2 separate regions of the Homo sapiens genome follow, and region 1 is linked to region 2. A link means that fine-mapping ties the variant in region 2 to the expression of a gene that starts in the linked region. Tissue or cell type: whole blood. Region 2 holds a variant in brackets; the other region holds the start of a gene. All regions are shown on one strand. Distances are between the middles of the regions.

The links. PIP is the estimated chance that this variant, and not a neighbour inherited with it, causes the effect.
Region 1: it holds the start of RABGAP1L, and the variant in region 2 is fine-mapped to the expression of RABGAP1L in whole blood (INTERVAL, PIP 0.93).

What each region holds. Positions count from the first base shown.
Region 1 is chr1:174,158,412-174,161,096 of GRCh38, forward strand. It overlaps RABGAP1L (RAB GTPase activating protein 1 like), which reads left to right and starts at 1,109. Exons shown (of 26, transcript NM_001366446.1): 1 at 1,109-1,246. RABGAP1L-DT (RABGAP1L divergent transcript) reads right to left here and starts at 876. Exons shown (of 4, transcript NR_121197.1): 1 at 753-876; 2 at 476-579. RefSeq lists silencers at 815-1,214, 1,335-1,514.
Region 2 is chr1:174,698,912-174,701,596 of GRCh38, forward strand. RABGAP1L (RAB GTPase activating protein 1 like) reads left to right here. Exons shown (of 26, transcript NM_001366446.1): 16 at 614-739. Among named protein-coding and RNA genes, the nearest start is that of GPR52, 250 kb to the left of the region's middle. The variant C/T (reference allele first, on the strand shown) is at 1,275.

The DNA.
Region 1 (2,685 bases), 540 kb before region 2:
AATGAGGGCAGGGGAATTGAAGTGGGATAGAAGGGAGATATTTAAACTAAAGTCATTCTATGGCTGCAATCACTGGACACTATATTCACTTATCCATGCAATCACATTCATTGAGTGCTTCCTATGAGTTAGGCAGGGTGCACAGTGTAAGATACAAATGAATGATACAGGTTCACAGCGGTTGTCTAGTGGGATAAAATGCTGCACAGGGCAACCTGGATAAGCCTGACATGTTAGGTGCCACAAAACTACAGAACAAAGTGCTAAGGAGATTCGGAAAATTTACAGGTCATTTCTGGTTGCAGGATCTAGAAGAAGGATGTCCACAATTCAAGGATCAGTACAATCTTCGTAGCGAAAAAGCGTTGGTTTATTCTACCTCTACCTAGTTTGTACCTCAACATCTTTTACCCCAAAGGATAAAAAGGTGCAAATGAGGGCACATTTTCTTCATATAATACGTAATGGTGCTTACTTATTGCTTTCCTGTTCATTCCCCGCAGGTGATTTCCCTCTTCAGTCTCCCCCGAGTCTCACAGAAGGAACTAACAAGGGAGCGCTTCACAAGCACACAGACACCTTCAAACAGGCGCAGAAGAGTACTTGGTGAAAAAGTATTCTTTCAGGTGACTTTCCTTAAGATTACTGAGCATTAAGAATGAAAATATGTAAACCAGGTTTACGAGCAAGAAAATAATCTCTCCACATTCAGAGTTAATCTTCCGAACTCAGCAACTGCCAGTAGAACGCACCCCGGTCAGGGCGGGCTCGCGGGCGCGGTCCCACCCCCAGGCCCCTCCGCCGCGGAGGTTCTCCAGCGCCGCCCGTACTCCCGCCTTTCGCGCGTCCCTGCTCTAACAGCTCTGGTTCTGTCAGGACCTCACTCCTCCGCTCCCGGCGCAACCGCGGCCACGCAGCGACGTGCACGCGCGTGTGCGCCGCCGCCGCCCGGCAGAGTGGGCGCCTCCGACATCAGGAGCGCGCACGCCGCGCAGAGGGGCCTGGACGAGCGCGCTTCCGACCCGCCGCCACCGCCTCCTCCCCTCCTTCTCGGCCCGCCCCCTCCCTCGCCTCTTCCTGCCAGGCGGCCCTTCTCCCCTCCCCTCTCAGTTCCCTCCGCCCTCCTCGGGCTCCAGCGGTGGCGGAGCGAACGGGACCGGCCCGGCTTCAGAGCGCGAGGTGGAGGGTGGAACGCGGGCGCCTGAAGGAGTTGTTGTCTCGGCAGCGCCCGCGGAGACGTGAAGAGGTGAGGCGAGGACGGCCTCCTAGGGACACGAGGGCGGCCCGGCGGCCCGGATCCGCGGGCCGAGGCTGCCTGGGTGTGTTGGCGTCGGGCTGAGCCTGGGGAGGGTCGAGATGGGGCCCCAGCCGAGGACTGGGATGCGGGAGGACCGCGGTAAGGAGGGTAGGGGGCGGGTTCAGGACTGTCGGCCGCCTCCCGGACACCGCAGTTCTCCCAGGTGGCCGCTCCTCGCGGATAGGGCGGGCGGGGTCGGCGCCCTTACCTGGGGGTGGGGTAGTGGCTTTGGCGGCCGCCTCCTCCAGCTGTGCCCTCCTGACATTGCTGCCTCGGCGGCTGCCGCCCGCTGCTACGCTGTGGCTGCTGCTGGATTCGCAGTCCCAGCCGCCCTGCGTCCGGTGGGCGAGTGGTTAGGGTATTTTCTTACCCACACGCAGGCTTCTGTACTCGACCATTTCTCTCCCTCGCCCTTCCTCTTCCTCCGCCGAGCACTTTGCTCGGCTCCTGCTGTTGATGCTTGTGGTTTTGCAGTTTGGGATGGGATGCGTTCCGGGCAGATCCCTACCTGTAGGGAATGCCCCGCTTCAAAGTTGACCTCCTGAGCCATGACAAACACCTCCCCCCAACCCCCACCCACCTTGTGAGTGCTCAGTGTCCTGATAACTGAGTCAAAGTTTCTGAGACTGGGCTAGTACTTTGCACTGGTCGCCAACGGTACAGGGCTGGGCAGTGCGTCAGCATGTGGAAAGGGGCCACCGGCTAGCGGGAGGTGGCCGGGTGCATGGGAGCTGAACTGACGGGTTTCAGATACTAGGCAGTGTGTCCAGGTCCTTGGATCTCTCAGATAGGGTTATATTAGAATATGTACCAAAACTTGGGTGGTCACTTGCAAAATTGGTTTCATGCAAGTAAACTGAAATGCCAGCCTTATTACACTAATGGTAAGGAGAACTTTTGCTTGCCTGACAGATTTCAGCGCAGTTTGGAAAATGATTTTAAGGCCTTTATTTTTGGCACTGGAGGGGTTTAGGGATTTTTAATACATTTAAATTTCCTCGTGCATAGTGGGAGGTAAGTAGTTGCTTGTTAAAATTCTGAAAACACAGTTTCATGAAAACCTTCTGACTTTTCTTACAGTAGTGTTTATATTTGGCATCTTCCGTAGAATATCCATTAGTTATGATGTCAGAAGATACGGATGTGAAGTTTGCTTTTTGTGATCACATTGGAAGTGGATTTTGTTCATGGAAAATACTGGTTCACAAGCTCCTAGTACTAGAAAACTGGCCTGTGATTCATTTTCTCAGTAGAGCGTCCCTTATGAAATTGACAATGAGATTTCTAAGGAGAAAGACTAGTTGAACTTTATGTATACATTATCATCAAATTGTATTAAATGTACACCTGCCTGAGGGGTTAGCTCTAGACTTTGAGTTAGACTGGTG
Region 2 (2,685 bases):
GGTACCGGGGATTAGTTTATATATAATGATAGGGAGGAGCGAGACTTTTACCTTTAGATCTTTTTACATTGTTTTTATTTTATTTTATTTTATTTTTTTTTTAGACGGGGTCTCGCTCTGTCACCCATGCTGTAATGCAGTGACGTGATTTTGCTCACTGCAACCTCCACCTCCCAGGCTCAAGCGATCCTTCCACCTCATCCTCCCAAGTAGCTGGACTACACACTCATGTTGCCACACTCGGCTAATTTTTTTATTCTTTGTAGAGACAGGGTTTTGCCATGTTGGTCAGGCTGGTCTCGAACTCCTGGGCTTAAGTGATCTGGCTGCCTTGGCCTCCCAAAGTGTGCTTTGGTTTTTTAATCATGAGTGTATTGCCTGTTTTTAAAGGTAGCCTAATGAATGAATGACAACATGATTAAAATTAACAAAAGAAGATAATTCATCTCAAGTAAGGAGGTCATGTCACTCTGCCAAAGACTGGCTCTGAAGGACTTCATTTGCTCCAGGCCTTCAGCTACTTATGCAGAGGACTAATAACATGAAGGAACTTTTTTGACATTCTGGCAAAATGCCACTTATTTATATTGTATATGTATATATTTTTCTGTAGATGCCAGAGGAACAAGCATTCTGTGTTTTGGTGAAAATCATGTACGACTATGGTTTGAGAGACCTCTACAGAAACAACTTCGAAGATCTTCATTGCAAATTCTACCAGTTGGAGAGACTAATGCAGGTAAATAAAAATTAGGAACTTTTATCACTCAGGGATTTGTTGAGTCATAGAAAAAGCCTAATAGAGTTGGTAAGCAATAATGAATTATAGAAGTTTAATGGAATATTATAGAAAATGTACATGGATTTAGTTTCAGACCAATATCTACATTGGTCTATCATAATATGTTTATTTAGCCATTTTACTATTTTAAAAATATCTCACATTTTAAATGTTCAAGTTAAATATACTTTGAAGTGAGAATCTAATGAGTTTAATCATTAAGAGATTGCCAAGTATTGTTTGTAGAGGAATGGAGATATTTACAGAGTAAAAATTGAAATACCTAAGAGCTTTCTGCATACTAATTAGCACCACTTCCTTATTTGAGTCCACGTAGAACACTTGGAAAAGCCAGAAAGATATTCATAAGAGAATAAAACATACTAAAATACTGTAGGGATACATTTAAAAATTTTTAAATATAATTCCTAATCTCAATGTTGTTGTTGTGCTTTACAATGCGTATTTATAAATGTGTGTGAGAAACATGCAT[C/T]CTTTTATATATACCAAATATTACACAGTAAAAAAGATTGTGACCACAGGCAAAGTGATTGACCAGAGCTGACAAAAGGAATTTTTAACTAGCTTTGGAGTTCTACCTGAAGTTGATAATCTTAAATTTATAATGGGTTTTTGTGGCATGTTTATGTGACTTTGTTTAAAAGGGGTTTTGGGAATCCAAGAGAAATGTGAAGGAGATACATGGATGGATTGATTCCATATTGGGGAAGGGTAAAATGGTTGAGGAAGGAGGTTCGTGGAATGTGAGAGCAGAAGATGCTAGTAGGAGCTCATTGATATGAACTGCCAGGGGATCCGTAGGTGTCTAAAGAGGGAAGTGAAGCCAGTAGGAGACTGAGAGATTAGAAGAACAGGGCAGTAGAGGATGAATTTGCAGTGAGGTTAAAGGAACAATTTATTGGGAGAAGGGAATGTAGGAGGGTAGAAGACTTTAAAATTGAAAAGAAATAAAAGGAGGCAGGGATGTAAAACGAGCCATAAGTACAATGACAAATGGGCATTAAGGAGGAAAAAGACTATGTAGAAGAATCTGGTAAATATGGATATTAACAGCAATAAGCTCCTTTTTAACGATTTAATTCTACCAAGTAAATATTTGGGATTACTCGCTTTTTGCCTTTTATTTACCAAAAAATTCATATATTTTCAAAGGTCAGTATTCCTAAGGGCTTTGAGAATCAAGTAAATATACCTAATAAATAACAGATGTGTGGTACTATGAAGAACCTCAACCACATTTTTCTGTTAGCAGTTTTTTTTCAGTTAACTGAATGAGCATTTGGACGTTCCATTTGAAGTACCTAATGGGCACATTTGGCTATTTTTCAAAGAGAGCATGTAGTTCAAGAAATGGCTTATTTTGTTTTTTATTCTTCTTTTTGTGGTCTATTTAGGAAAACAAAATGAAGGTGGCCTTTGTCTTTCAGTTATGGTAATAGCTATGCTAATACTTTGTACCTTGCTGTTCATGCTTTTGAAAACCATTTGCTTGTTTAAATTGGGAGAAAAAAATAAAGTTACCATAAAGGCATTTTTAGAAGATATCCAATTTTATATATTATACCTTTGCATAATTTCTTTGCTTTGCCATTTTTAATATGCTGAAGACAGATTTCTAAATAGTTTGTCGTGGCTTAGAATTTTCTAAGTGTTCAAAAAATATACTGAAACATCATAGACCCCAGATTAGATGATTTCCAAAGAGAAGATACATTTCTTTTCTAGCTAGTTAAGAATTGAACCCTGGGCTGGGTACAGTGGCTCACACCTGTAATCCCAGCACTTTGGGAGGCCAAGTCGGGCAGATCACTTGAGGTCAGGAGTTCGAGACCAGCCAGGCTAATATGGTGAAACACTGTCTCTAGTAAAAAATACAAAAAATA